Homo sapiens: one gene and its partners. The protein of the gene in region 2 purifies or fractionates together with the protein of the main gene of each other region. This does not show direct contact. Each region holds a gene or a part of one and is shown on either strand. Other genes may lie near its edges.

Region 1 (10,704 bases), on a different chromosome or scaffold from region 2:
TTTTTTGTTTTGTTTTGTTTTTTGAGACAGAGTCTCACTCTGTCACCAGGGTGGAGTGCAATGGCGCGATCTCGGCTCACTGCAACCTCCACCTACCGGGTTCAAGCGATTCTCCTGCCTCAGCCTCCTGAGTAGCTGGGACTACAGGCATGGGCCACCACACCCAGCTAATTTTTGTATTTTTAGTAGAGACAGGGTTTCTCCATGTTGGCCAGGATGGTCTTGATCTCCTAAGCTTGTGATCTGCCTGCCTCGGCCTCCCAAAGTGTTGGGATTACAGGCGTGAGCCACTGCACCCGGCCTCTGCCAGGACTTTTTAAACTACAAATTCTCCGGTCTCTCCTTTGTGTGCATGGTTGTTTTTTTTTTTTTCTTTTGGAGACCGAGTCTTATTCCGTCACCCAGGCTGGAGTGCAGTGGTGCAATCTCGGCTCACTGCAACTTCCGCCTCCCAGGCTCAAGCAATTCTCCGGCCTCAGCCTCTGGAGTAGCTGGGATTACAGGCATGTGCCACCATGCCCGGCTAATTTTTGTATTTTGTAAAGACTGGGTTTCACCAGGTTGCCCAGGCTGGTATCGAACTCCTGACCTCAGGTGATCCGCCTGCCTTGGCCTCCCAAAGTGCTGGGATTACAGGTGTGAGCCACTGCGCCCGGCCCTTTCGTCCTATTTCCCCAGAAAAGCACATTCCACTTGCTGATCCCTGAGAAGGAGTGGGCAGCCCTACTTTCTGGGTCTATTTGGTAACAGGACTCCATCATCCTGACCAGTGTCCCTCCCGCTTTCCACTCCTTGCACCTCAGACTCCCTGGCAAGGTTCTGGGGCCCCCTCTTCTTCCAACCTTCACAGGGAAGGGTGAAAGTCCCCTCAGATGCTAAGCCCAGGCCAGATGGAAGCCTGACTCCCAGCCTTCCTCCTTGCCCAGGAATCTGTTGGGATGACGTACTTCATGTGGCCTAACACCTAAAGCAGATGCTTAGCTGGGGAAGAGCCTACAACAGGGACTGCAGGCAGGCTCCTGAGGCTCAGGACCCAGGATAGGGTCCCCAAGACGGGAGGTTGTTATAAGGCTCCTTCTCCCACAAGCTTCCAGGAATCTCCAGCCTACCTGGAAGAACTGGAGCATACTACATCCAGGGCCAGGATCTGGGCCACGCAGAGGGTGTGGCAAGTACCCTGGGGAAATAGTGTTTGCTAGGGTCCTCGTCTGTAGTTTTAAGTAAGGAGTAGGTAGGCTCTAGGATAGCACAGAATTTAAGAACAAAGGCTCTGGAGCCAGTGTTACCCATGTTCAGATCCTGGCTTTGCCTCTGCTGGCCACATAACCTTGAAGGGATTTACTTAACCTCTCTGTACCATAGTTTCCACATTGGCAAGCTGAATAAAATGATAGTATCTACCTCAAGGGACTGTTGCAGGGAATAAATGAGTGAAAGGTTTCAGAACACAGTGGGCTGAACTTTCAGTTTCTCTCTTGTGGCTGCAATTCCTGGCTCTATGTCTGCCTTGCTCCACCTGAAATCTACTCCACTCCTGAAGACCCAGGAGTTGAGATTGTTCTCTTCTAGATGTACCTATGGCCTAGACAGGTCAGGTGACTCCTCTGGGGCTTGCAAGTAATCAGCCAATCAGTGGGAGAGCACTGATTAGCAGGACATGGGGCAGGGCCTTCACAAACACCTGGGCAGGGGAGTGGCCTTGGCCAAGACACAGATTCCTGTTTTCCAGGGGATGGTGGAGGAGGCTGACTTCTGACAACTCAAGTCAGCAAACAATAGGCCTAGGATTGAGGTTTACTCCAAGTGCAATGGAGGTAAAGGGTGGATGAGGGAGTGCTCGTTGTCCCCTTAAGGTTGGGGCTGGGGGTGGCATGAGGGAGGGAAGACTTCGCACAGTGAGGGACTCCTCATTGGCCCTTGACAGTTAAAGGATGGAGGGCTTTCCAGCAATGAGGCATTTACAGAAGACAGCCAGGCATGAGTCTCCCAGTGCCCCCACCCAATCATCCCTCCATGCTACTATCACCCGAGTGGCCGAATGCCCTTCAAGGGCTCCCTTTGTCCTCACCAGAAAGCCTAACCCCAGAGCCTGGCATCCCAGGTCCCTGCTCACAGCAACTGTTGCACTTCCCATGCACTGAACCGGAGAGCTTGTAGTTCCCAGAATGAGCGATGCTGTGTCACCCCTAGGCCTTTCTGTGAGCAGGTTCTTCTGCCGGGATGCCCTGTGCTCAGCTGTCTCAGCTGTGCCTTGTGTGCAGGGCACAGCTCACAAACGACCCTCCTCTGACTGCCCTCCCAGTGCTGCCCTCACCAGCCCTTCTGCAGAGTTGGCCAATCCCAGTCGCTGCCTCTAGAGCACAAATCCCACTGTTTACTCCCACTGTGTTTTTGCTGACCTCTTTACTTGTCTTTCTTTCCAGACTCAACTTCTTGAGCCAGGAAAAGTGGCTTGCTTGAAGTGCATCCCTGCCCCCTGGAACACAGCAGGTGCTCAATAAACATCTGATAAGGAATACATGAAGGGTGAATGAACAACAGCATGGAAGAGTTCTCTGAGAAAAGCGGTGGGAATGTACTAGGGGAGGAGGGGAAGGGTCGTGAGTGCTGATGAGGCTGGCAAGGGGTCAGGACACAAGCAGGACGCAGGGTCTGAACCAGGCTGAGGAGTGGGAGGCTTCCTCTTGTGCCTCTCTGGAAGTCACTGGTGGGTTTGAGCCTGGGGTGACATGAGGGACCTGTGGTTTGGAGCTGAATCAGACTCTGCCTGAGGTTGTGAGAGTGCCTTGGATCTCAGTGCCCCAGTCAGATGGTCTCTGTCCTCATGGAGCACCTTCTGCCCAGGCAGTTAGTCATCCAAGCCCTCTGTGACCTGCCTCTGGCTCAAGAGCAGCGACTCTAGCCTATTCACATGGTGACCCTGGGGTCTGTCGCACAGCTGGGGCTCAATGCTTAGTAGCTGGAGGAACGAATGAATGCTCTAGGGCCTCCATCAACCCACTGGCCTCCAATGTGCAGACACTCTTTCTTCTCGGCCTTGCCTGCAGCTGGGCTCCTGCAGGCTGATAGTGCTACAGCTGCTATTTTGGCATCTAGAAGGTTTAGGGGATCATCTAGTTCATGGCCCAGTGAGGTTCCAGCAGGGAAGTAACCTTCATGAGTCACACAGTGGCAGAGCCAGGGCCAGAAGCCTAGACCTCCTGACTCTGAGTCCAGTGATCTTCATGCTTGTCCTGGCTCCCCTCCGTAGCCCTTGTCCAGATACTCAATTCCTCCCTGTGCCCATCCCAGCCATGCTGTCTGACTGGGATCCACCTGTGTCTCCAGAGGGAAGGCTGCTCTGGTTCAGCTGCACTGGGGGAATGCGCTGAGAGACGGCAGAGCACCCCTGGGCAGACATCCTGTGCTCAGCACTGAGGGTGGGGAGGGAGCCCCTGGATCCCAGGGGATAGCGGGGCTGTCACACCAGCCCTGACTGGCTTCCAGACTCAGATAACACTGGGAAGAATGAAACAGGCTGTTTTGCCACGGCCTCAGCCGCTGTTCCTGGGGGTTTATGTTGCTCACGGCTGAGCCTAATCTCAACTGATGCACAGGCTCACACGGCTTCCCCATTCGCGCACACCGTCCTCTTTCACAGACAAGCTGGGTCTCAGTCTCCTTCCCGCAAGGTCTCCCAGTGGCTCCTGTTCCACATTCCCATTCCCTCCACAGGGGTGCATCTGGGCCTGTCTCCTCCCTCAGTCTCCCTGTTGCCGGCAGAGGCGGCTCCCCACCGTCTCATCACACCCCTCTCCGCAGTCCCCACGCCCACCCCCCCTGTGAATTCCCCATCTCATGCCCAGCGTCAGGGCACACCCCGCATCACCCTCCTCACTTGCTCGATTCTCCTCACACGCCTCCTCCCGATGCCACTTCTCATAACGTGTGTACACACACACACACACGTGTACATGCGTGCATGTGCAGGCACACACTCTTACCGCATGTCATCACCTTGCTCCAGCCTGCCCGGTCTCCTCTGGCACCCTGCCTTCCCATCACGGTCCCTAGCTGGCCCCACTCTCCAGGCGCTCTTCCTCAGCCCCTCCCCAGAAAGCCCTGGGGTTTGGGGGGAGGCCCGCCTGCAGGAGAATGGAAAGCAAAGGGGGCCAGGGCAGCAGACTGCCCCTTCCCTCCACACCCTGCTTCCAGCCACCACTGTCCAGTGCTGGTCATGGCCCAGGCTGCAGGTCATCGCTCTAGGGCCACACAAGCCACTTGGCCCCCTCCCATTCTTCCAACCCTCTTGCTCCTGGACAGCTGGCGCTCTCTCCTGGGAGTGTCCTCTGCCATCTTGGTCTCCTTCCTGTCACACCAGAGAGCATGATTCTGGGGCCCAGGCTGAGCCAATCTAAATATTTATTCCTCTGCTCCTGGCTGGGGCTGCTTTATGGCTAGAGAAGTGGCTGGCTTCGCTGGGCTGGGGAGGGGAGAGGGGGTTTAGCCTGCAGAGCCAGCCAGGAAGCAGTGCCTTCCTAGCCCCACGGCAAAGCTGGAAGCACCCTGGCTGCTCTGCCCAGGCTTCTCGAGCAGGAACGGGGTGGATGGATTCCACCCAGAGCCAGGCCACGCACATCCCGAGGCCAGTGCCCAGGGACCTAGGCCGCCCCATGATGAGATGCCAGCATCCCCTCAGGGCTAGGCCTGGACAGAGGCTGCTTGTCTTGGGGCATTAGCACAACCACTCACCCAGAGCAGTGCTCCTGCCCCCAGCCCCTCCCCAGAGCAGTGCTCCTGCCCCCAGCCCCTCCCCAGAGCAGTGCTCTGTCAGCCGAATCCCAAAGGTCACCACTGTCCTGACTGCTGCAGGAACAATGTGAGGCTTTATGTGGATCAACTGCGCCCCACTGTGCTGCTGACTCAGTGCTCCTGAGACGGGTCTCCATGCTTCCCTCTCACCCGCACTCCCAGCCCTGATGCCTCTCCCTGCCCTTTATCTGAATCCCTAGTGGCAGCCACTTCAACACTTGCCAACTTCAAGGATGTTAGCTCCTCATGATGCTTTGGTCCCTACAGCAGAAAAGCAGCAGCTGCAGCAACATGCTTAACGGTGGGGTAGACGGACATCCAAGCGGGCACTGGCACCTCACTCCTCACATGCCCACGCGGGCCTCTGTTCTGCGAAGGGCCTCTTAGTCACTGCGCACACTGAACCCCAAGCATCACACTGTTGTCTCTGGTGTACCGGCAAGGAGCCTGGGGCTCAGAGAGGTTAAGTGACTTGCCAAGTCACACAGTGGGTAAGTGGCAGGAAAAAACGTACATAGTGATTGCTCACTAGTGTCTGTGAGATATTTTCTTTTCTTTTTTTTTGAGATGGAGTCTCACTCTGTTGCCCAGGCTGGAGTGCAACGGCGTGATCTCGGCTCACTGCAACCTCTGCCTCCCCGGTTCAAGTGATTCTCCCGCCTCAGCCTCCAGAGTAGCTGAAATTATAGGCACACACCACCATGCCTGGCTAATTTTTGTATTTTCAGTAGGGACAGGGTTTCACCATGTTGATCAGGCTGGTCTCGAACTCCTGGCCTCAAGTAATCCGCCTGCCTCGGCCTCCCAAAATGCTGGGATTATAGGCATGAGCCACCACACCTGGCCTTGGTGAGATATTTTCCAAACTCATCCCCCTCACCCAGCTCCCCAAGAGGCCATGCAGGGGAGAGAGGAGTTGCAGGCATGGCCAAGTAGCCAACACTCCATCCACTGGAGGTAAGAGCGTGGGGGAAGTGGTCCAGCCCAAGTCTGTACAAACGAGGGTCTCTGTGGATTTGTTCCTCTGCACCAAGGTTTTTTCCAGCCTCCTTCTCCCCTCCACCTCCCTCCCCAGGGTTCTTTAGCCTACTGGAAGGAGCCCACTCATGGTACCATGGCAGACAGGCAGTCAGGATATACTGGAAGGAACCCTGGGTCCTAATCTGGGATCATCAGCTGCTTCATCTTGTCAGCCTCACTTGAGAGCTCCAGGCGATCAGATAAGAGCATGTGTGACATGAGGGACTGCTCAATGGGTGATCTCCAGACCCTATGCAATCCTCACTTCAAGGCTGGGCCCTCCGCCAGCGGAACAGGAGTCTGTCCTAAGTTTATCTCCACCACCTCTCTGTGCCTTGGGAAGCCTGGGAGGGAACTAACTCACTCTCCCCACCAGCTTCCCAGCAGGATCCTCCATTATCCCAGGTGGCAGTCTTCATGGCCTACCGGGATCTTTTGCTAGGACTCCACCTGGACATAGCATTCAGGGGTGGGAGATGCTGGCCAAGCTCCCGGGAGGGGGTCTGAACCCTCAGGCAGGGCTGGCCATCCTGATCTGAGGAGGAATTCCTCACACGCAGAGGAGGGACAGATATTAGACCCAGGAGCCCCATGTCAGTGAGCCTGGTCATTCCATCTGGCGACTTCTTGTAAATACCTGTGAGGAAATGCTCTGAGCTCCAGAAAAGTCTGGGCCTCTCCCGAAAGCACCTCCACTGCCTTTTCCTCCCCAAGGAGACTTTCCATCCATCAGATGCTTCCACGCCAAATCTTAAGGGTGCTAACACAGACAGGGTAGGGGCAGACTGGGCCCTGAAAGCTTCTCGGTCCCACATCTATGTGCTGTGATATCTCCTTGGGATACACGTTCTTAGGTGGCAACGTGGACATTGCACATTCCACATCTTTACTGACTGCACCTCAAGGCTTCCCATGTTGCTCCCCCACCCACAGACCAGGCCCCCCGGCACAGGGGCCCTAGCATTCTTTGGACTATCCCTTCCTCTGGCTCCCACTCACTCATCAGTGCCCAGGACAGGGCTCAAGCTTCCATCCTCCATGGGTCCTTGTCCCTTCGAAGCGGCCCTGAGCTGACCCACACAGCTGTACAGTTCCCCTTATCTTGCTTATTCCCTCCAGGGCTCCAGCTGTGGGCCTTCAGGATCCCCTCCTTCCACACTTTTGGAGTCTGTGTCTCCCTATCCTCCCTGATGCTGGGAGGGGAAAGGGACCCCCACCGCCCACCACCGTGATGCCATCACACATGACCTTCTTCATATCTGTCAGTATCACCCTCCCCATCCGGTCAGCCCCAAGGCAGGCAGCCTGGAGCGTGACTCATCCTCTTCCCAGCTTTTGGCCACTCGGACTAGGGGACAGAGGTGAAAGAGAAACTGGCAAGAATACCAGCTTCCAGGAGGTAGACCAGAAGGGCTGTCAAATAGCCAGTTTAGGGAGAGGGGATGGTGACACACCTATGATTAGATATGCCAGTGATTATGTACATCCAGGGCTAATTACACCCATAGGATGTGGAGTATAAAGGAGAGTGTTGCCCACCAAGGGCGCGCTGTGAATTAGTTTGTGTACTGAGGGCACACAGCATTAGGCCCGAAGTATATGTGCTGCTCAAAACACATTAGGATTAGTGTGGGTAAGATGACAGGTTTCAAATATGTGACTGAGTTTGGGCCCTACCCTCATTTAACCTGAGCTGGCTCCTTCTCCAGGTCCCCTCCCCTCCCCTAGAGCAACTGCGCCAGTGGTTCCCAAACTTTGCTGCACACTGGAATCACCTGGGTTCTTTTGTCACCCAGACTGGAGTGCAGTGGCGCGATCCAGGCTCACTGCAACCTCCGCTTCCTGGATTCAAGCGATTCTCCTGCCTCAGCCTCCTGAGTGGCTGGGACTACAGGTGCATGCCACCATGCCCAGCTAATTTTTTTTTATTTTTTATTTTTTAGTAGAGACGGGGTTTCGCCATATTGGCCAGGCTGGTCTCGAACTGCTGACCTTGTGATCCGCCTGCCTCAGCCTCCCAAAGTGCTGGGATTACATCACCTGGGTTCTTTAAAAGAAAAAACAAAACCAAAACGACTGCTGCCTGACTCCCACCCTGAGATATTCTGATTTCACTGGTAGGGTGTGCAGCCCAGGCAGTGGGAATTTTCAAAGCTCCCCAGGTGATTGTGAGGTGCGGCAAAGCTGGGAGCCACTGAGCTGCGGCATTCTTTCAGAGCTGTGGCTCGGTCAGCCTGATGGCCTTCACTCAGCCTCTGGGCAGGGCTTGCAGTAATGCAGGATGGCCATCTGATAGCTCCAAGCTACTGAGTCTGCAAGCCTCACCTGGGCTCCAGGCTATGTGTCCTCCAGTGGGTTGACGACTGTGACTGCTTTGCTGCGTCAAGGTCCAGAGCAGTAGTGTGGGAGAGAGTTAGACTGTCAGAACTCTGACGCGGGTAGAGGCAAACAGGTGGGAAGGGCTGGAGAGAGGGGGCTGGATAGGGTTGGGAATCAGACAGAAGCCTTGGTCCCATCCCACACAGGGAGGCTCACTGCTGCCCTGGGTGGACTGTCAGGACAAGGATGGCTGCTCCTGCTCTGAGGGGCTGGCCAGCAATTTTGGCACTTCAAGGAGAAGGTTAAGATGAAGAGCTCAAGGATCCTCCAGGCTCAGTACTGACTTTTCTGCATGACCTTGGGTCCGTTGTTCAATGTCTTTGAGTCCAAGTTTAGCAGAGAGGATCCTTGCTGAAATGCTGTGTGAGCCACAATTGCAAAGCTAACAGCTCCTATGTCTTGAGCCCTTAACACAGTATCTAATACAGAGTAAGGATGTCATAGGCACTACTAACTGTGGGATATGTGCTATTATTATCCCCATTTTATAGATGAAGAAATGAAGGTCTGGAGAGATCAAGTAGCTTGCCCAGGGTGAACCTGCTAATAAGTGGTAAACCAAGTCTGTCTCATTCAGTCTGGACTGTTCTCCCCAACGTGATCAAATGGCAAACAAGGCTCTTCCCAAGTAGATGAGGACTTTTCCCAAATCACTGCAAATGAGTTTGGTACAAGAAACACAAAAAGCGTGACTTCCCAGGCTGGAGTGCAGTAGTACAATTGCAGCTCAGTGCAGCCTCAGCTCCTGGGCTCAAGTGGTTTTCCTGCCTCAGCCTCCTTGAATAGCTGGGACTACAAGGCACACACCAGCGTGCTCCGCTAATTTTTAAATTTTTTGTAGAGACAGGGGTCTCGTTTGGCCTGAAGATTTCATATTCCTGGTTTCAAGCGATAAGCCTGCCTCAGCCTCCCCAAATCCTGGGATTACAGATGTGAGCCACCACACCGAGCCGAAGTCTTTTTCTTATAGGAAAAATCATTCCTTCTAGACCAAACTTTCTTATGGAAATCTGACAAACACTATGAGGCATGGGGCCTTGAGAACTGAGAGGTGACCCACCCTAGAAGGATCTGGACATAGAAGCTGCTGTGGCCAGTGCAGGCAGTGAGTGAGTGGCCTGGGTGAGGGTAAGGCTATTCTCCCCCACACTGCACTCTCCAACTCCACCCCGTCCTAGGCCAATGGAGAAACCTGGAGTTAAAGGGACTTGGGAAAGCTGGTTTCCTTTCGGTGTCTTCCACTCCCAATTCCCTCCCTTGCTGATGAAATTGGAGATGCCAGAGGTGGGTATGAAATGGTAGCTTCTGGGTCAGAGGCTAACCTGAAAATCAGACTTTAGAAACCTGGGTGGAGGTCTGAACCACTGTAGAGATTCAAATGAGGTGCTCACAATCTCCAGATGCATTTTCTAACTGGGCAGTCAGATGACCAGCATACCCTCACTCCAATCCCCAGCACCCCACCCCCGCCATCAGCCACTACTGCCAGCACATCACAGCTACCTGGGTACTTCTTAGCCTCTCCCTTCAGATCACAGCAATAAAAACCTTCCAGATGTAGCTAAAGGCTATAAAAGCTCAGCCCTACCCATTGCCTTTCACTGTCCTGGCCACAGCCAGGGAAGTCTCTCTGCAGGATTCTAGTGCAGCCACAAGATGACATCCAGTGGGCAGGGGGTTGGGAGCCTCACAGCCTGGCCTAAGGCTAACTTTCAAGGACAAAGGGCTTGGACAGAAGATTAGATCCCCGATTCCTGATGGATCCAGCCACTAACATAGATTTTTCAGGAACAGAACACACTTGATAAAATTCTCCTAGGGTTTAGGTGGGGAGGCAGGGTGCCTAGCTTAGGCCTGCGGAGTAAGGATGGGCTACAAAGTCTTCCCATTTGTGAACGCTCACTACCCCACCCCCCATCTGCCTGCTTATGTCCAATGTCAGTGCCAACTCCGTGGCCCTGGGGCAATCAGCGGTCAAGCCTCACCCCCCAACCCCACCCACCTCTAGCGGTCAAGCCTAACCCCTCACCCCTGCTAACTATGGCAATCTGGCTGGGTCCCTAACTGACTTCCCAAACTCCGCCACCTCTCCTCTAAAGCGCCCTGTCTCTACGAGGGAGGAAAGACAGGCAGCTTCAGCAAGGGTCCCCGGGGCCCCGGGCTCCCCCAGCTATCTAATCGGCTTCACCCCTGCACTCCCCCAGGGACAGAGCCTCACAGGGCCTCTCTTTAGCTGGGGGAAGGAGACAGAACGCTCCTTTTGAATACCTAAGACTTACCCACCCTCTTTTCCTCCAGCTTTCCTGCTGCTGGGTCACTGTTAGTCACTCACCATCCAGGCCCATTTCCTGATAATCCCCCAGCCCCCTGGGTGCAAGGCCCTTCTTATTCCCTCCAACACAGACACACACACACCAAGAGCGGGCTGGTCTCTAACTCCCAAACCGTAATCTGGGACACACACCCACACACCCACACCCACCCACCCACCCACCCACCGGGCTGGTCTCTAAC
Region 2 (10,704 bases):
CCTGGTAACTGACTATATATATAGCATAATTCAAATTAACCACTAGGCCAAAACTATTTTTTTCTTTCTACCTAAAATTGTATTTGTTTTTTCCCATTTGTAAAAAGATGTTGGGGTTGCACAGACCTCTGTTGTTGGCTGTGGGGAGAGCTGTGCATAGATGGGGACATATTCTTTGGTAGCACCTTGGGCATGAGTGTGAAGAGGATTCTTAGTGTTCATGTGTATGACTGTGTGTCTAAGTGAGTTGATGTGGTAGGAACCATAGCCTCGAGCTCACTTCAGACAGAAATTTGAAGCTCTAGATGTTTCTATGTGGTGAATTAATATAGCCTTCATGAGAACAAAGGGTTGGCACCTCATCTAGAGGTCAAAGGCCTTAACCAGATTACCTGACTGAAGGCCTGAGGTGAACCTGGAGCTATTTCATGAACATGAACGTTACCATAAAACCAAGACTAGGTGATCTAAAAAAAGTCAATGACATTGACATTTTCTAAGGAGAAAACCATTAAAATATCACGGAATTTGCAAACCCTATGAATTTATCTCGTAATTTCTAGGGGATCATCTGAAGTTATTTACTAAGTTAGAAGCAGTCAATAATGAAATCAGCATGTTACACCAATTAGAATTTGTTATCAACTCTCCCTTGTGGATTTCAAGGTAATTTCCTGAGGCAGAGCAGTCCTGCTGGGAAGCAGTAAAGAATAGTAGAGTTATGAAGCCTTTAATCAGTGATGTTGGTCATAATTGCATATGATTTTGATTAAAAGCTTACCACTCCAATTTCAAAACTTAGTTTTATAAAAAGAGAAAAAGCAAATGGAAAGCAACCTTTAAGTAGAATTTTAAATTGGGAATATTTTCATAGGTTGGTTTCTTGTTTTTTCAAGGATTCATGATTAATTATAGTGAATTAAATAATAACCATAATAATACTTAATTGAGTAATTTATCTCTCATGTGTTCAGCCTTCAGGCTTTTTATATAAATATTAATAATCAGAAATTTTTAAAAAGGTTTCTTGGGGGCTGGGCACAGTGGCTCACGCCTTTAATCCCAGCACTTTGGGAGGCTGAGGTGGGCGGATCACAAGGTTAAGAGATCAAGACCAGCCTGGCCAACATGGTGAAACTCCGTCTCTACTAAAAATACAAAAATTAGCTGGGCATGGTGGCGCATACCTGTAATCCCAGCTACTTGGGAGGCTGAGGCAGGAGAATCGCTTGAACCCAGGAGGTGGAGGTTGCAGTGAGCCGAGATCGCGCCGCTGCACTCCAGCCTGGCAACAGAGTGAGACCCCGTCTCAAAAAAAAAAAAAAAAGTTTCTCAGGATAGAATGTTTTATTATGAGGAAAAAAATAAAAAAAAACAAAGTTTAGGTAGACTGTGTAGTATAATGCAGTGCTCCAGACAACTCATATTATGTTTTCAGTGATTGAAGAAGCAACATATGAAAAAAATTGGTATTAAGGGATGAAAAAGGAGAAAGGAATGGAGAAGATGTTATAAGGGAATAATTTAGGGACTAGGGTCACATCTCAAATGGTAATATTGTATCAGTATACTTCAAGCAGACGTTTTCTCTATTCCTTCTATTCCCCTATATGGGAATTCAGGATAATCTCAGGAGAGTTCTTGAAAATGCAGTAAAAATAAAGGAGAGTTTGCCTATTGTTGCATAACACATTACCACAAAACTTAGCTACTTAAAACAATATTTATCTCAGTTTCTGTGGGCCAGAAATGCTGACATGGCCTAGATCAGTTTTTCTGCTTCAGATGTCTCTGGAGGCTGCAGTTAAGATGTTGGCTTGGGCTGCAGGCATCTTAGGGCACAGCTGAAGCAGAGTGTGCTTTCAAGTTCAGTCAGCTGTTGTTTGCAGGACTCAATTCCTCACAGGCTGTTGGACTGAGGGTCTTAGTTCCTCGCTGGCTATTGGCCAGAGGCTGCCTCAAGTTCCTTGTCGTGTGGACCTTTCTAACATGGCGGCAAACTAACACAAGAACTGAAAACCAAACACCGCATGTTCTCACTCATAAGTGGGAGTTGAACAATGAGAACACATATACACAAGGAGGGGAACATCACAAACCAGGGCCTGTTGGTGGGTGGGGGGCAAAGGGAGGGAGAGCATTAGGACAAATACCTAATGCATGCGGGGCTTGAAACCTAGATGACGGGTTGACGGGTGCAGCAAACCACCGTGGCACATGCATACCTGTGTAACAAACCTGCACGTTCTGCACATGTATCCCAGAACTTAAAGTAAAATAAGCTAAAAAAAAAAAAAAAAAAAAAAGCCTGCAAGTGGAGAAGGAGGAGAGAGAGAGAGAGAGTGTGTGTGAGAAAGTGAGACAGAGTAAGAAAGAAGGGAGCTTGCAATAAGTAGAAACAAGACTGCAATCTTTTTTAACTTCATCATGGAAGTGGTATCCCATCACTTTTGCTGTATTCTCTTCATAAGAAGCAAGTTACTAGGTTCAGCTCACACACGAGGGGAAGGCATTTACACAAGGGCATGACTATCAGGAGATGGGGACCACTGGGGGTTAGTTTCAAAGCTGCCTACCACAAGAGATTTTCACCAGCACCACAACCCCACACATAATAAATAAACTCTACAGTTCCATGGCAAGCTACAAGGAAGTCTTTGTGTTGTCTTTATCATAAAATTGAATCTTTCCCCCAAAACACCTGTAGAAAGGCTATGCAGCATTAAGTATCAAAGGGTCAAAATCTAATTTAAAAAATAAATTATGAGAGAAAAGCAAGTACTGTTTTACAAGAAAGTATATAATTTTTTTATTCCCATAGGCTTCTTTTTTTGTTACCTTCAAATTAACTATGGTCAAAGGATTGCTCATTCCAGTAATAAGAACAGGCTTATTTCATCATTTACATAAATATCAGTATCGGGCACTTGCAAATGAGAAAACTCTGATTTGAGTAAGGATTAGTTTCACTTCAATTTCCATTTATGCGTTTGCCAAGTTTAAATCCTACTGTAGTTACTTAAGCAACCAACAGAAACATATTTCTTGATGATGCTAAAACCTACCTACACCTGGCTTTAAAGCAGAAGAAATGCTATCCAGCTGTATCCTATAAATTGCTTGATAAATAATATTTACATGTTATTTCTTTACACGCTTCTATTTACTTCCCTATTAACCAGCTTCTCCAGATGTATTCAGTGTAATTATGTACAGGACATGGTGTTCTACCTCAAAGGGAAATAAAATACTTATATTCTACAAGGTATGGTATAAATGGGAAAGAGCACAGAGATTGGTTGTAACTTCTCTGCAAACAATCTTTGGTTAAAGGACTGACAAAAAATATCCATCTAGTAAAAGAAACAAGCAGTAGAAATGTGAAAATGACTGTGTTCAGCATAACCCTGGCACATGTTGGCACACCAGGACCATTCCACCTGCTAGCCCCAGTGAGCTTTCTTTCTCTCTGCAGTTATAGATGAAGAATGGCAAAGAACTCAGTGCAGCCCTAGAGAAACGTGCGTGGAGGTGGCCAGTGAGCTGGGGAAGAGTACCAACACATTCTTCAAGCCCCCTTGTGTGAACGTGTTCCGATGTGGTGGCTGTTGCAATGAAGAGAGCCTTATCTGTATGAACACCAGCACCTCGTACATTTCCAAACAGGTATAAGGACATCGGCAAGCCTGCCGTCTCTAAAGCCCTGATGATAATAGTGTTGATAGCTACAACAACCTTGTTGCTAAACACTGTACTAAATGCTTTATGTGCATAATCGCATTTAATCTTTGAAACAAATCAAGAGGGTATTTTATGCTCCTTTATAGATGAGGAAACTGAGGCTCAGAGAGGTAACTTACTTATCCAAGTTTACACGGCTGATAAATAGCAGAGCTGGGATTCAAACCCAGGTCTGTGGGAGGCCAGAGCCTGAACTCTTATCAGTTATTGTCTCTCTGATGCTATGATGTCAAGACTCAGAAAACCATATGGAAGTTACTAGGACAGGATGTTAAAAGGAATGAAGATAGCTGATGGCAGGTTCTGTGTTGCTCAAATGGAGTGATTGAGAAAAATTTAATGAAGGTTGTGGGCAGAATTGGGGAAAGAGGGATGGGACAGTGAAGCACCTGAAGCTAGCAAAAAGGGTGAGATTTCCCCACCCTTCGACTGAGGAGACAAGGGGAGGGAGCAGTTATGGGAACCCAGAGGGAAAGCGGAGAAGAGGGTTTCTGGACTGGCCACTGTCAACTCTTAGCCTGGCAGGGAGTAGGGGCAGGGGCTGGGAGAGGCAAGAGGGTTTATAGATGTAGCCCATGGAGGGCAGCGTCCTGGGGCACAGAGCCTGATGGGGAAGGAAGGGGAGAGGATGGTGTCTCTGGAGGGGCAAAGAGAGAATATCTAGCACAAAAGACATTTGGAAATAATTCTGCAGTCCCCATGAAAGAAATAATTCAGCCCTCTTCATCTTATAAATTTCCCTTTGCTTAGTAGGTAAGTTTTCCTTTCTCTGGTTACCATGTTTTTAATAAATGTCGCATATGAGAGCAGTAGTAACAAACTTGGGAAAGCAATACTAAAAAACTGTACATCAAACTACATTATTTTTGGTATCTGTTGCAAATTCTTTGAATGTTGATATACTTATTTAATTGTCAGTTTGCCTATATGGTTTATTCTCCTTTTAACTGCAAAAAGAGGTAGTACAAGAAAATTACATGCACTGAATATATCCATGTTAGGTAATTTTCTTAATGCTGATTTGTTTTGTTAATAGATTTACTTATCCTTAATTTTGTTCCTCCACCCTCTAAAATATCCTTTAAACTGCAGAGTTTCTTTTTCTAAATTCTTTTAGAGAATCTTGGAGCTTGTGTGTATTTTAACCTCTACTATTTGACAATTAGGAAAAAAAAATGACCCAAGTAGGGCTAAGCATCAATTCTGAGTAGAAAAAAAGCTTGCATAACGTAAGAGGGTTTAGTTCATGATCATGTGATTCCCTAGAGCATAGCCAAAAAATTGTGCAAGAAGATGAAGTTTATGCAAAGTAAACACTACAAAAACACTCTCACTGAGACTCATGGAAGTTCCATTACATATTGAGATGTCAGAATAAACACAACCTTAATGGATTGCTTCCACTTAATAGATAGTTGAGTACTTTATTTTGACTGCTGTACTCAACAAATGATTAATTTCATACAATGTACTTAAGTGTAAGTGTACAGCAGTTTTTCTTCCAAATATGCATTTTTGAACATTTTAATAGTAGTTTTTTAAAAACTATCTCTCGCCCCAAAGTTATGGACTATTTGGCAAACCACCTCTTAGAAACAAAGTGAACAAATGAATACTCTATGTAGTAAGGACTACATGGAATGGTGATTGAATAGACAATGCATTAAAATCAACTTCAAACTCATCCACACATCATAGAACCACTCAAGAAAGTTGTGTAATCTCTCTGTACATCTGTTTCTTCACCTGTAAGATGGGGATAATAAAAACCCACCCCATAATGTTGTTATAAGGGGTAAATGAGTTAACATGAAAGCACTTACAACAGGGCCTGGCCTACGGAAAGCGTAGAAAGAATGATATACATGTTAGCTATAATTATTTGTTTGGGCATGATGATCTTGTATCAGTCAGCTATTAATACACAGTGCTACGTAACAAACACACTAAAACTCAGTGGTTCCAAACAACAATGATTTACTCTCACTTATGTATCTGAGGTTCAGTTAGTTTAGGGTGGATTCAGCTGGGCTTGACTCTAAGCTGCAGTGTGAGTCCAAGTCAACTTCTATGTTTCCCATCGCTTGGACCAGCAAGCCTGCCGGATTATGTTCTTTTCATGGCTATAGCATAAGTTTGAGAAAACAAGCCCCATAAAACATGCACAGTTCAAATTTGTACTTCTGTCATGTCTGCTAACATCCCACTAGCCAAAGAAAGTGACATGGCCAAATAAAAAGTCAAGAGACAGGAAACTATATTTCTTCAATAGAGATGGTGTGAGAAGGGATGAATAAATAGTTTGAATAATAATCTATTCTAATAAAATCCTAAAGAAACTGCATAGCTTTAATCTCATTTAACCCTTACGATTTACACTCAAATTTAAAGCAGGAGCAGGGATTAACAGTACCATTTTACAAGAGTATCAATGATCAAAAAGTTAAAAGATTTGACCAAACTTAAACACTTCATAAAGTTAGATGAGCCTGTTTAGTTCCATTCTTAATGGACAACTTGGCTAAAGTCATTGCCGTAAATGACAAAGGCAAAAATTCAGACTAGAACAACTTTAAAAATGATATATAAAATTAAAAAAATATATTGTGGTTATCTTTCTCTGCTGTAGCTCTTTGAGATATCAGTGCCTTTGACATCAGTACCTGAATTAGTGCCTGTTAAAGTTGCCAATCATACAGGTTGTAAGTGCTTGCCAACAGCCCCCCGCCATCCATACTCAATTATCAGAAGATCCATCCAGATCCCTGAAGAAGATCGGTAAGCACTTTTGTTTTTTTTTTTATACTGGATTATGCTTATTTTTGCCTTGCCAAAACTGTGTGTAGAGGATTTTTCATTAATGTAGAGTTATCAATTTATCTTCAAATTATTCATATTTTAGCTTCTAACCTGAACCTACTGGTAATAACTGGCAAATACATATTTTTATTAGATGTTAGATATATATTGTGGTAGGACCAAAACGCTCAGTGGTATGAGCTTGTCATGTCTACTTGTAGACACGTTTGTTCTTAATATGCATAGTCTACTGCAGGTGTAAAACCGCTGTAACCTCAAATTTAGCACATGTTCCAGAACAAGCATTAAATAAAACTTATTTCAGGCTGTTTGTATATTTACATCCTGAAATGAGAGAAAACAAAGAAGATTCCTGGGGTCATTGGGGAGTGACAAAACTAGCAGCACGTGAGTTTTGCAACTTTCTAATCTTTCCCCCTTAAGATTACCAAATGGAAAACCCTTATTTTAAATTAAAATGACTTAAAATTAATTTGGCTTTGAAATTCTCTTGAGATTAATTTTGTGATTATTTATAAGACAAACGACAAAACCAAAGGTAAGGATCACTTATTTGAAGAAAAAAAAGGATTTAATATAAAGAAACAAGTAAAGGGTAACTGAATGAAAAGATCATTAGTTAGATACTTAGACTTTGCAAAAGTAAAGCAATAAATATATTGTGTGAGTGGCAAGTAAAAGAGTAAGCTGGTGATTAGTTAACATTGAACCAAGAAGACACCTCCCGCCTCTCTCCAGCAGAAAAGAAAACTTGTAGAAAAGCAACATTTATTCTCAAGATGTTCCTGCTGTTCTGGCCAATGCTTTTATCTTTATTTTAAAGAAAATAATCTTAGGGGCCGGGCACGGTGGCTCACACCTGTAATCCCAGCAGTATGGGAGGCTGAGGCGGGCAGATCACGAGGTCAGGAGATTGAGACCATCCTGGCTAACACGGTGCAACTCCGTCTCTACTAAAAATATAAAAAAAAATTAGCCGGGTGTGGTGGTGGGTGCCTGTAGTCCCAGTTACTTGGGAGGCTGAGGCAGGAGAATGGCATGAACCTGGGAGGTGGAGCTTGCAGTGAGCCGAGATCGCGCCACTGCACTCCAGCCTGGGCAACAGAGGGAGACTCCGTCAAAAAAAAAAGAAAAGAAAATAATCTTAGGAGGTATGTTAGAACATATTTAATTTTCGTAAATAAACTGTTGACAGCTATAATTTGCATAGTTTTAACATATACCTTCTTAAGAAGATTACAATTTCCAAAATTACAGTTTAGTTTCTAAACATTTCCACGTAGAATATTTATAATTACAGAATCACTATCTAGTAAGATGCAGTTCATAAATACAAATTAAGCTCCTTTAAAATCTTTTTTTTTTTTGAGACGGAGTTTCGCTCTTGTTGCCCCGGCTGGAGTGCAATGGCGAGATCTCGGCTCACTGCAACCTCCGCCTCCCAGGTTCAAGTGATTCTCCTGCCTCAGCCTTCCAAGTAGCTGGGATTACAGGCATGTGCCGCCACGCCCGGCTAATTTTGTATTTTTCAGTAGAGATGGGGTTTCTCCATATTAGTCAGGCTGGTCTCGAACTCCCGACCTCAGGTGATCTGCCCGCCTCGGACTCCCAAAGTGCTGGGATTACAGGCGTGAGCCACCGCACCTGGCCCGCTCCTTTAAAATCTTAACTCTTCTCACATCCTTATCATTTTGTGGTGAGAACATTTGAAATTTACTCTCTTAGCAATTTGGAAATATAAAATACATTATTATTATTGACTATAGTTACCATGCTGTGCAATAGATCTCAAAACCTTATTTCTCCAAACTGAGTATAAAAAGCAAAAAATAAATTTAAAAAATCTTAACTATTATCTACTCAGGAATTTATTTAATGTTCCAAAGTTTTGATTATCCTTGAAAGCTTTTAAATCTGGTTCATTGTTTTCTTTTCCTAGCTGTTCCCATTCCAAGAAACTCTGTCCTATTGACATGCTATGGGATAGCAACAAATGTAAATGTGTTTTGCAGGAGGAAAATCCACTTGCTGGAACAGAAGGTAATGATAGTAGTAGTAAAATAATAACAGTAATAATAAAAGTAGCAACAATAGCAGCAACCGTTATTGAGTACTTAGTATGACCAGACAATGTTGTAAATCTTGTATATGTTTTAACTCATTTAATTCTCACAACAACCCTGTAATGTACTATTGTTATTTCTTTTTTTACAATTACAAAATGGGCACACCAAGATATCGAGTAATTTCCTCAAGGTCACACAGCTGAGAGTGATAGAAGTGGTCAGATTCCAGAACCCTCTGTACCATAATCATATAGTAAGTCCATCAATGCATCACTCTGCTTTTTAATCTCAAAGAAAAGCCCAGAGTGGTTGGAGCATCCTGAAACACTGAAATTGAAAGGGGATGTTAAACTTGAATGAAAGCTGCTTCAGAACTAAATACTAGTCAACTGCAGTTTACTAATTTATTTGTATAAAAGTCTCACAGGAACATAAAGTAATTTTGGACTTGGTTTCTGTCAGCTGCATCATATGAAAACACGCCAGTAATTTGAAAAAAGAAATGGAGAATAAGAGAAAATTTTTCTGGAATTAGGGCAAAGCAAAAGCAAAATATGGCTATTGGTCTAAGGGGAGCTGGGAGCAAAATGAGATATAGTCAAATTGTCATTGCTCATAATCCGTAATTCTGTGACTTTGGGTGATGAACATTTGCTTGAAAATGAATGCATTTTAATGTATTTTCCAGAGAGCTTTACATGGTTCCACCAAAAAAAAAAAAGAAAGAAAAAAAAAGTCACAAGTAGTCATGCAGTTTTAACCTTGCTTGTTTTAAACTATAATCTATAAGCAAGAACAGTAAGGGCTAAACTCTAAGAAATCTGTCCTATAAACTGTAAATAGCAACCTACTCTCCATTCTTCTGCCTCTCAGCTTCCTTCTAAATGTTTTCACGAAAGCTCAGCCCAGAGCATGTGGGGAAATTTAATATTTATGTGGTTTAAATGCCCATGCCGATCTTGAATGTTCTTTACACCCTTCCCACCAAGTGTTCAGCCATCCTCTACCAGAACATACATCAGTTATTTGGAGACTCGCCATCCAGTGAGGCAGCACCAAGGGGTGGGCACACTCCTGTTGTTATACTGAAATGAAATCTCTCTCCAGAACAGACCAGACTGCCCAATGGAATACAATAAGAGTCATATATGTAACTCACATTTTACATTAAAAAGATAAAAAGAAACAAGTGAAATTTATCTTAATATATTTTATTTAATCCAATCTATCCAATGTACTATCATTTCAACATGCAATCAATATAAAAAATTTATGAGCTAGCCTACATTCTTTGTGCTAAGTCTTTGAAATCCAGTGTGTGTTGTACACTTACAGCACATCTCAATTTAGACTCTCTATTTCATGCCCAATAGTCACATATGGCCCATAGCTACCTTGTTGGACAGCCCAGCTCAAGAGCATCAACTCATTAGTTCAGGTTTTACCCTATAGAACCATGTAAAACAAATCTAATTCTTTCTCCATGTGACTCATGTTCTAAAAGTGTTAGAAAATTTTTGTGGGGTTGGCCGGGAATGGTGGCTCATGCCTGTAATCCTAGCACTTTGGGAGGCCGAGATGGGAGGATCACTTGAGGTTGGGAGTTTGAAAACCAGCCGGGCCGGCCGGGCGCGGTGGCTCACGCCTGTAGTCCCAGCACTTTGGGAGGCCGAGGCGGGCGGATCACGAGGTCAGGAGATTGAGACCATCCTGGCTAAAACGGTGAAACCCCGTCTCTACTAAAAATACAAAAAAAAAATTAGCCGGGCGTAGTGGCGGGCGCCTGTAGTCCCAGCTACTTGGGAGGCTGAGGCAGGAGAATGGCGTGAACCCGGGAGGCGGAGCTTGCAGTGAGCCGAGATCCCGCCACTGCACTCCAGCCTGGGCAACAGAGCGAGACTCCGTCTCAAAAAAAGAAAAAAAAAAAAAAGAAAACCAGCCGGGCCAACATGGCGAAATCCCATCTCTACTACTACTAAAAAAAAAAAAAAAAAAAAAAAAAAAAAAAAAAAAATAGCTGGGCATGGTGATGTGCGCCTGTAGTCCCAGCTACTCAGGAGGCTGAGGCATGAGAATC
Region 3 (10,704 bases), on a different chromosome or scaffold from region 2:
TCACACCCCCACACTCCAGCCTGGGCAACAGAGTGAGACTCTGTCTCTTAAAAAAAAAAATTTAAGACTTTGTAAGAAAAAAATGTAAATATATCATAAACAATTCTATGTCAGTTACATGTTGAAATGGTATTTTGGATATAGTGGGTTGTTATTTCATTATTAATTTCACCTCCTTTTTTAAAAATGTGGCTACCAGGGAATTTAAGATTATGTATGTGGCTTACATTAGATTTCTATTGGATAGCAATGGTCTATGCCAATTCTGCAAGTAGATTTGTTATTTCTCTTCCAATGGTGGCTTTTAAAAAGCTTGTAGAAAATATGATCTAGAATAACGAAGAAACATGAAAATATACAGCATGTCTGACTCAGAATGAAGACCCTTGATACTGATCTAATATAGGAACACTTGTATTTCTCATCTACTGTCACTTGACGTTCTTATCACCAGTTTTCCTAGAGAAGAGAAAATCAGTCCCACCTCTGTGACCACTATGTATATTCATATGTATAGCCATACAAACACACTGTATAATTTACATTGACTTAGAACCGCAATTAACTACATACAAATCCCTAACAGTGTCAGACTGAACATCAAGATCTTTGAACATGAAAACTACCTGGGTTCCCATTCACCATCCAACCATCCTCAACTCCCAGCATGTATTTCAATATCATAGAAAAGAAGGGCCGGGCATGGTGGCTCAGCCTGTAATCCTAGCACTTTGGGTGGCGAAGGCAGGTAGATCACCTGAGGTCAGGAGTCCAGGACCAGCCTGGCCAACATGGCGAAACCCCGTCTCTACTAAAAATACAAAAATTAGGGCATGGTGGTGCATGCCTGTAATCCCAGCTACTCGGGAGGCTGAGGCAGGAGAATCACTTGAACCCAGGAGGTGGAGGTTGCAGTGAGCCGAGATTGCGCCACTGCACTCCAGCCTGGGCGACAAGTAAGACTGGCTCAAAAAAAAAAAAAAAAAAAAAAAAAAAAAAAAAGAAAATAAGGAACACATCTGTAACTCCTTTATATAATCCCTGCCTGCTCTACTTCAACATCCTTAACTCCTAATTTAGAAAACTTCTCTGCTTACACTGCCAAACCTCTACAACCACAGAGGACACCAAAGGAGAATACTGGTGGAACAAGAACAGTAGGGTACAGCTATTCACCCCAATAGTTGTTAGTTATCTAACCATTCACAAAAACCCGTAACACAAAAACTACACTGAACACAAAAATAAATGTTTAATCCCTTTAGCTCTTTTCTAAGTATCAAAAGATAATCACAAATCTATGAAGAATTGCCAGGCACAGTGGCTCACGCCTGTAATCCCAGCACATTGGGAGGCAGAGGCAGGCGGACCAACTGAGGTCAGAGGTTCGAGACCAGCCTGGATAACATGGTGAAACTCTGTCTCTACTAAAAAAAATACAAAAATTAGCTGGGCATGGTAGTGGGCGCCTGTAATCTCAGCTACTCAGGAGGCTGAGGCAGGAGAATCATTTGAACCCAGGAGGCGGAGGCTGCAGCTGAGCTGATACTGCGGTACTGAACTCCAGCCTGGCCGACAGAACCAGACTCCATCTCAAAAAAACAAACAAACAAACAAACAAACAAAAAGCCTGGAGAATAAGACAGGAGTGCTGCTGGAGAGACCCTTTACTTTGCTGAGTAGGGAGGATGACAGAGTCTCAAAGGAACAATAAAAGTCATAACCAAATAATAAATTATAATCAAATATACCTGTGACTGTTCCAAGTCAACTCATCAACCTAGTACTCTAAAAAGTGACTCTCCTAATGAAAATCCTCTTACTGTAGAAAAAGTTGATATCATGACACTGGCACTGAGTACCAGCAAAAGAGATTAAAAAAACATTAAAATTCAACAGAAAAGGCCAGGCGCGGTGGCTCACGCCTGTAATCCCAGCACTTTGGGAGGCCGAGGTGGGTGGATCACGAGGTCAGGAGATCGAGACCATCCTGGCTAACACGGTGAAACCCTGTCTCTACTAAAAATACAAAAAATTAGCCGGGAGCGGTGGCAGGTGCCTGTAGTCCCAGCTACTTGGGAGGCTGAGGCAGGAGAATGGCATGAACCCGGGAGGCGGAGCTTGCAGTGAGCCGAGATTGCACCACTGCGCTCCAGCCTGGGCAACAGAGTGAGACTCTGTCTCAAAAAAAAAAAAAAAATTCAACAGAAGATAATGTGCAAACCTAATTAGTCATGATATCAAGATGCTTCATCCACTTATTCTTCTGCTATTTCTTCTAGCTGAGGGTAATACAACTGACCCACTCTTCTGATCTCAGTTTTTTTTTTTCTAGTAGCAGTGATTAAGTTACAGGGATCCATCTATACTTCTTTGCCAGTACCCCCGTGGCCACTGGCAAAGTTTGATGGACTGCTGGCTGGCACTGTGGCCATAGAAGAGATGAGGCTAGGCTGGGTGTGGTGCTTCACACCTATAATCCCAGCACATTGTGAGGCCGAGGCAAGAGGATTGCTTGAGCCCAAGAGTTCAAGACCAGCCTGGATGACACAATGAGACCCTATCTCTACAAAAATTTCAAAAATTATTCAGGCGTGGTAGCACATGCCTGTACTCCCAGCTACTTGGGAGGCTGCGGCAGGAGGATCACGTAAGCCCAAAGGTTGAGGCTGCAGTAAGCCTTGTTTATGTCACTGGACTCCAGTCTGGGTGACAGAGTGAGACCCGGCCTCAAGACAAAAAAAAAAAAAGATATGAGGCTAATTGACTGTGTATATGAATTGGATGAACTCATAATTCTACTTTGCTACAACTCAGAGAGCCAACAACTAAAAACAATTCTACAGGCAGTTACCATGGTTAACAAACACCAAGAGGGCCATCAGGGATGTAGCAGAGAGGGAATGGTGGAAGGTGCCTAACAAGGCAATTCATTCATCTCTTGTTCATTTCATTGGGCAGTGTTTTCACTTCCTGGTACCCAGCTCTCAAGACATTCCATCAGGCGTGAGAGCTGGTTTTCTGTTTCCAACATCCTGTAGCTACAGATCCATTTCCAAGCTTCACACCCACCTTGCCTGTCTTTCCTCTGCCAACACCCACCTGGCCACTGGTCCTTACCAACCCAAGAACAGCCTATCTTTTCCTGGCTCCTCACTTCCTTCTCATGTAATCTAGGTAATATGTTCCTTTAGGAAACTGTCTGCCTTATCCCAGATCTTTAACATAAATCAAGACATGGCTAACATATAAAAATAACTGGCTGGGCGCAGTGGCTCATGCCTGTAATCCCAGCACTTGGGAGGCTGAGGTGGGCAGATCACCTGAGGTCAGGAGTTCAAGACCAGCCTGACCAACATGGAGAAACACCATCTCTACTACAAAAAAAAAAAAAATACAAAATTAGCCGGGCGTGGTGGCGCATGCCTGTAATCCCAGCTACTTGGGAGGCTGAAGCAGGAGAAACACTTGAACCCGGGAGGCAGAGGTTGCGGTGAGCCGAGATCGCGCCACTGCACTCCAGCCTGGGCAACAATAGTGAAACTCGGTCTCAAAAAAAAAAAAATTACCAAATTTTAAGATGCTCTGATCTGTATACTGCTTACGGGTTCTTTTCTCAATTTTAATGAATAACTTCAAAGACTGAAAAAATACCTTATAATTTTAAGGAAATGAAAAACATCATGGTCCTTAGCACAACACTAAAATTAATTAAAAAATTAATCTTCTATAAAAAAAGACTTTTATTAGGAACAGCATTCTACTTTTAACTTTTATGAATATGCAGTTTAGGGAGCGCTTCCTTTGAGTCCATATGCATGAAAGTAGCCCCACAGCTATATTTATAAAGTGATTTTTTTTTTTTTTTTAGACAGAATTTCGCTCTTGTTGCTCAGGCTGGAGTGCAATGGGTGATCTCAGCTCACTGCAACCTCCGCCTCCTGGGTTCAAGAGATTCTCCTGCCTCAGCCTCCCGAGTAGCTGGGATTACAGGCGCCTGCCATCACGCCCAGATATTTTTTTGTATTTTTAGTACAGATGGGGTTTCACTATGTTGGCCAGGCTGGTCTCAAAATCCTGACCTTAAGTGATCCACCCATCTTGGTCTCCCATGGGATTACAGGCATAAGCCACAGCGCCCAGCTCATAAAGTGATTTAAAAAACATTATTTCTAGGATAATTCAATGACAGCTTAGCCTTCACTAAAAACTTTTGGAGCTTCTAGTTTAAAAACAAAAAAAACATGGCCAGGCGCGGTGGCTCACACCTGTAATCCCAGCACTTTGGGAGGCAGAAGGGGGAATCACTTGAGGTCAGGAGTTCGAGACGAGCCTGGCCAATATGGTGAAATCCCATCTCTACTAAAAATACAAAAATTAGCCAGGCACGGTGGCTCATGCCTGTATCCTAGCACTTTGGGAGGCTGAGGTGGGCAGATCACCTGAGGTCAGGAGTTCGAGACCAGCCTGACCAACATGGACAAACCCTGTCTCTATAAAAACACAAAATGAGCCAGACATGGTGGCGCATGCCTGTAATCCCAGCTACTCGGGAGGCTGAGGCAGGAGAATCGCTTGAACCCAGGAAGTGGAGGTTGTGGTGAGCTGAGATCGCGCCATTGCACTCCAGCCTGGGCAACAGGAGCGAAACTCCATCTCAAAAAGCAAACAAACAAAAATTAGCCAGGCATGGTGGTACATGCCTGTAATGCAGCTACTTGGGAAGCTGAGGCAGGAGAATTTATTGAACCTGGGAGACAGAGGCCACAGTGAGCCGAGATCATGCCACTGCACTCCAGCCTGGATGACAGAGTGAGACTCTGTCTCAAAAAAAAACCCAAATACATTGTGCACATGTACCCTAAAACTTAAAGTATAAAAAAAAAAAAACCCAAAAACCAAAAGACAAAAAACCTAGGCAAATATATATGATAGATATCATAAAGTTGATGTTTTGAAAATAAGTTATGATGCATGGATTTCTTTTAAAAAGGTTGCAAAGCTTAATATGAAGGGGTCTGTTTAGTTATTTCACATCATAAGTTTCATAAGCTGCTACTGTGAAAAAGTTACCATCTTACAAGACTGCTGCTAAGGCTGGGCACGGTGGCTCATGCCTGTAATCCTAGCACTTTGGGAGGCCGAGGCGGGTGGATGACCTGAGGTCGGGAGTTCAAGACCAGCCTGACTAACATGGAGAAACCCTCTATCTACTAAAAATACAAAATTAGCTGGGTGAGGTGGCGCATGCCTGTAATCCTAGCTACTCGAGAGGCTGAGGCAGGAGAATCACTTGAACCTGGGAGGCGTAGGTTGCGGTGAGTTGAGATCGCCTCATTGCACCCCAGCCTGGGCAACAAGAGCGAGGAAAGAAAAAAAAAAAAAGATTGCTGCTAAAACATCTTAAAATCTCAGACTAAAAGGAATCTCTTCCAAATTGAGTTCCCAATTTGAAACAAGAACATGTAGTTATGTTTTACTACATTTTAACTTAAACATGAATATAAAAATATGGGAAAATGAGCTTCAAAATGAACTTTAAATGAAATTATGAAATCAAAGACCCCAGAAATTAAAATGTGATTCATTTTCCCATAAATTTACATTCTTATATATTCTCTATTGAAAGTCAAGGTAAATGTAATTTACGATTTATTCAAACTGAAAAAGTTGCTGGGCATGGCAGCTCACACCTATAATCCCAGTACTCGAGAGCTGAGGTGGGAGAATCACTTGAGCCCAGGAGTTTGAGACCAGCCTAGGCAATACTGGAAGATCCAGTCTCTACAAAAAAGAAAAAAAAAAAAAGTCGGGTGTGGGGCGCACACCTGTGGTCCGACCTGCTATGGAGGCTGAAGTGGGAGGATTCTTTGAGCCTGCGAGGTCAATGCTGCAGCGGGCTATGCTGGTGCGCAGCATGGGCGACAGAGACCCTGTCTCAAAAACAAAAAACGAACTGAAAAAGTCTTAAGAATGTCATAATCTGTTAACAGATTACAGTTAAAGTACAATAAGTTGTAAGAAGACCTGATGGTAAGGATCTTATCAGTGGGAGTCCACTTACATTTCTATAGGGAGGCAAAAGGCACTGCATTAAAATCACATGCTAATTACCAATCTTGGCTTTGCAGTCCCCAAATCCCAAAACCAAATTATTTCTGTCTATATGTGTGCTTCAGTGGCAGATAACATTTTTTGAGAAGAGAAAATTAAGGCTAGGAGCAATGGCTCACACCTGTAATCCCAACACTCTGGGAGGCTGAGATGGGAGGATCACTTGAGCCTGGGAGATGGAGGTTGCAGTAAGCCAAGATCCCACCAATGTACTCTACTCTAGCCTGGGCAACAGAGAGTAAAAAAAAATAATTATAAAAAAGGAGAGAGAGAGAGAAAATTAGAATCTACTAAGAAAAGAGTGGTACAACTTTCAAAAAGTTGGAGCTGCCATTCTACAATGTATACATATTTCAAAACATCATGTTATACATGATAAATATATACAATTTTTGCCAATTAAAAAAATAAAAACAAAAAAAGTTGGGACTAAGTAGATTAATGGCCTACGTAGTCTTGTATTTTACATTTTAAAAATAAATAGTATCAGATACTTCTGAAACTAGCATAACAATATGACCACCTGCTCATTTATCCACTATCATTTTTACATGTGAAAATCTTCAAAAAGCTAGAGAAATTATAAATCAGATAAAGATAAGGACTCTACTTGAAATCTCAATTTGTTTTTTTTTGTTTTTTTTTTTTTAAAGAAATAGGGTCTCTCAGCCTCCCATCTAGCTGGGACTACATGTGCACATCACTGCAACCGGCTTGAAATCTCAAACAATTTTACCCAAAATCAAAAGTAGCCCAGAAAGAGTTAAGAAGGTGCTGGGCGTGGTGGCTCATACCGGTAATCCCAGCACTTTAGGAGGCTGAGGTGGGTGGATCACTTGCGGTCAGGAGTTCGAGACCAGCCTGGCCAACATGGTGAAACCTGTCTCCACTAAAAATAGAAAAATTAGCCAGTAGCAGTGGCAGGTGCCTATAATCCGAGCTACTCGGGAGGCTGAGGCAGGAGAATCACTCGAACACAGGAGGTGGAGGATGTAGTGAGACAAGATCACGCCACTGCATTCCAGCCTGGGCGACAGAGCGAGACTCTGTCTTTAAAAAAAAAAAAAAAAAAAGGAGTTAAGAAGGCACTCAAGAAAAAAGTGCTAGAATCACAGTAGAGTACCTCTCTGAAATTTGACAAAATTAGTAAAAGTTGGCAATTACTTTGTCATCAGTGTTTATCCCTTCCTTATGGCATGTTTCACAATGCACTGTGGAAGCTACGTAAAAAATGCATCTTCCTTGCCAGACTTAAAGTAAGGAGCTGCATCTTATTCACTTAGCCCCACATTCCTTGGAACCTAGCAGACTGCCTTACACATAGTAGTGACTGAAAGGTTGAATGATTTAAGGCGACACATGTACCTAGATCCAGGTAATCAATTAGGCTCTAATCTATGCAAGAACATTCATGATTTCATTTTAGCTAATAAGCAGCGAGCAATTTGTTAAGTTGCTTTTTTTTATTTGGAAAGCTTTAAAAGTAGATTTTAAGCTCTGAATAACATACTTACATTTTAAATGTATTTGAAAGTATGATAGTGAGACATTTTAAAAAATACATCAAGATAAAAAATGATTGGGTTCACTGTGAACTAGACAGTGTTGGCAGGGTGAACACAAAGTGGGTGCTAAAGTCTATAAAATGTTAACATGACAAGAACACCACAAAGTGAGTTAAAAGTGGCCCTACAATTCTCACTGGAAAAGTATTAACGGGCAAGCAGGAAAAATGTAGGGTACTGCCATCTCCACTAAGGGTCTGTAGGGTGGGGAGCCTGTTGTCCACTCCTGAGGAACAATTATTTCCATTCCTCATGGTGCTGCTGAAAAGTGAAGTACGGAGGAGCTGGTTCAGTCTGTGAACTCATTTCCCATCACCCAAAGAAAATGACGGAATCCCAAGCTGACTGGGCCCCTTCTAGACTCTTGATAGTTCAAGCTCTATCAACTCTCTAAAGCGCCAGTCTAGGGCAGAGGTAAAGTAAGGCAAACTACAGCCCTCAGGCCAAATCCAACCACCACTTTTTTTTTTGGAGATGGATTCTCACTCTGTCGCCCAGGCTGGAGTGCAGTGGCACGACCTCAGCTCACTGCAACCTCCACCTCCTGGGTTCAAGCAATTCTCTGCCTCAGCGTGAGCCACCACGGCCGGTCCACCACCAGCTTTTATATAGCCCGAAAGTTAAGAATGGTTATTTGTATTTTTGAATGGTGGGGGTGTCAAATGACAAATCATATTTCATGACACATGAAAATTATATGAAATTCGGCCAGGTGCGGTGGCTTACGCCTGTAATCCCACCACTTTGGGAGGCCGAGGCCGGCGGATCACGAGGTCAGGAGTTTGAGACCACCCTGGCCAACATGGTGAAACCCCATCTCTACTAAACGAAATACAAAAATTAGCCGGGCGCAGTGGTGGGCGCCTGCAATCCCAGCTACGCGGGAGGCTGAGGCAGGAGAATCACTTGAACCCGGGAGGTGCAGGTTGCAGTGAGCCAAGATCACGCCACTGCACCCTAGCCTGGGCAACAGAGCAAGACTGTGTCTCAAAAAAAAAAAAAAAAAAAAAAAAAAAAAAAATATATATATATATATATATATATATATATATATGAAATTAAAATGTCAGTGTCCACAAATAAAGTTTTAATTGGAACAGAGCCATGATCTTTCAATTACAGGTTGTCTATAGCTGCTTTCGTACTATTACAGCTCCGCCAAGCCTGCAATGTTTGCCACCTAGCCCTTTACAGAAGAAGCATGCTGAACCCGGGACTAGAGCATCTCTCTATGCTCCTGGTTGCATTGCCTTTCTCAGAGGCACTGCTTCACAAGGTTGAGCCTTCAAGCTTGACAGGTGTCCATCTCAGGACTGTGTCATCCAAAGTTACATTAATAAAATCATAGGATTTAGTGTAATTCATTAGGGTGGGTACAAAGACAAAGTAACATATTACCTGCACACATAAGGCCCTGAAAAGGAAGCACCAAGCAAGTACAACATGATAGGCTTGTTCAAACCTTTTACCAGACTATTATATCCAGTTCAGGATCACACTACTGAAAGGAAATGAGAACTACAGAGAATTTGGAGGTGGACAGATGACTGAGAGTGCAAAAATTACACCACTAAAGAAACACGGAGGCTGGGCGTGGTGGCTCACGCCTGTAATCCCAGCACTTTGGGAGGCCAAGGCGGGTGGATCACCTGAGGTCAGGAGTTCAAGACCAGCCTGACCAACATGATGAAACCCGATCTCTACTAAAAATACAAAAATTGGATGGGTGTGGTGGCAGGCGCCTGTAATCCCAGCTACTTGGGAGGCTGAGGCAGGAGAACTGCTTGAATCTGGGAGGTGGAAGTTGCAGTGAGCCGAGATCACGCCACTGCACTCCAACCTGGTGACAGAGTGAGACTCCAGCTAAAAAAAAAAAAAAAAAAAAAAGAAAGAAATAAAGAAAAAGAAAGAAAGAAAGAAATGCTGAAAGAAATGGGATTCTTTGGCCCAAAAAAGGCAAAGGTAAGAAAAGAACTAATAGCAAGGGTGCCAAACACTGTATTTACTGATAGGTCAAAGTCTTACTGATGACAATAATGACAGTCTGAACTAATATTCCACAAAATATGTATCTAATGAGTTAAATGTGATTCGTGAGACTGCTATTCCTGTCTTAGGCCATAAACTAGACCCTTGAAAGAGAATCACTTGTCGAATATTGTACTATAAGTCTTCAACAGATGTATTTAGGTATGTTCCTTTTTCATTAGGTATGTTCTATTTACTGACATTAACATAAGTTACTAGGAAAGGTGTGCTACTAGTGTGCTGAGGTTCAGCAATATTCAAGTAACTAAAAGGTAATATAAGTTTCATAACCACACACCTTTGCACAGCACCAAATGGGGGGAAATGGGCTTAAATTACAGAATATATGTTACATTCAAGAATGTTCCAAATATGAGATTTTAATTACTCTAACAGAGCACTGGGGGTGAAGGAATTTTCTTCCCAGGACACTTCAATTAGAATGCTCGTCTGGAACTATCTGTATGCTTTCTTAGACCAAGGAGAATGGGTCTGAAACACTCTTCCATGGCTGTGATTCTCTAACTAACCCTCCCAGTTTTCAAGAGTAAGAGAGCTTGCAGCCATTGCTCACTTTTGTTTTGTCTTGAAGGTGGTCAATGTACACAGGACTACAGTTTAAGATAAACTTTAATATCCCAAATTGAAAACTGATTATAACTTTAATTACGAGTTCTTAAAATTACAGAGATAAGGATACATTTCGATTAAGCAGACGAAGTGGGGAAAAGAGGCATAGCTTCCTACTTCTGTGTCCCTTTCAATGAGGCTAGGTACCTCATTATTTCAAAATGCCCAACACTTGAACACTGTAAGTACTCAACAAATGCTTTGCGAAGAAAATATAGTATATTTCATATTAGTTTTGTAACTTTTAAAATACAGAATCGTTGAACACAGAATGTTGAGTCAATTTCAACGTCGCAATTAGTAATGCGAATTTTGAAACTTGTTCTAAATACAATTTTAATCAATCTGAGTTTTTCAGCCTTGAAAT

Evidence for each region.
Region 1: the proteins of VEGFD (region 2) and OAF purify together in Homo sapiens (affinity purification with mass spectrometry; 2 studies listed by BioGRID and IntAct, with this or other methods). This does not show direct contact.
Region 3: the proteins of VEGFD (region 2) and KCMF1 purify together in Homo sapiens (affinity purification with mass spectrometry; 3 studies listed by BioGRID and IntAct, with this or other methods). This does not show direct contact.

Annotation. Positions count from the first base shown.
Region 1 is NC_000011.10:120,212,230-120,222,933, reverse strand, and holds part of OAF (out at first protein homolog precursor), read right to left. Parts: intron 1-10,704.
Region 2 is NC_000023.11:15,350,965-15,361,668, reverse strand, and holds part of VEGFD (vascular endothelial growth factor D preproprotein), read left to right. Parts: intron 1-3,475; coding exon 3,476-3,666; intron 3,667-6,370; coding exon 6,371-6,519; intron 6,520-8,500; coding exon 8,501-8,601; intron 8,602-10,704. UniProt on the Homo sapiens protein: Growth factor active in angiogenesis, lymphangiogenesis and endothelial cell growth, stimulating their proliferation and migration and also has effects on the permeability of blood vessels.
Region 3 is NC_000002.12:84,972,688-84,983,391, reverse strand, and holds part of KCMF1 (E3 ubiquitin-protein ligase KCMF1), read right to left. Parts: intron 1-10,704. UniProt on the Homo sapiens protein: E3 ubiquitin-protein ligase which accepts ubiquitin from an E2 ubiquitin-conjugating enzyme and then transfers it to targeted substrates, promoting their degradation by the proteasome.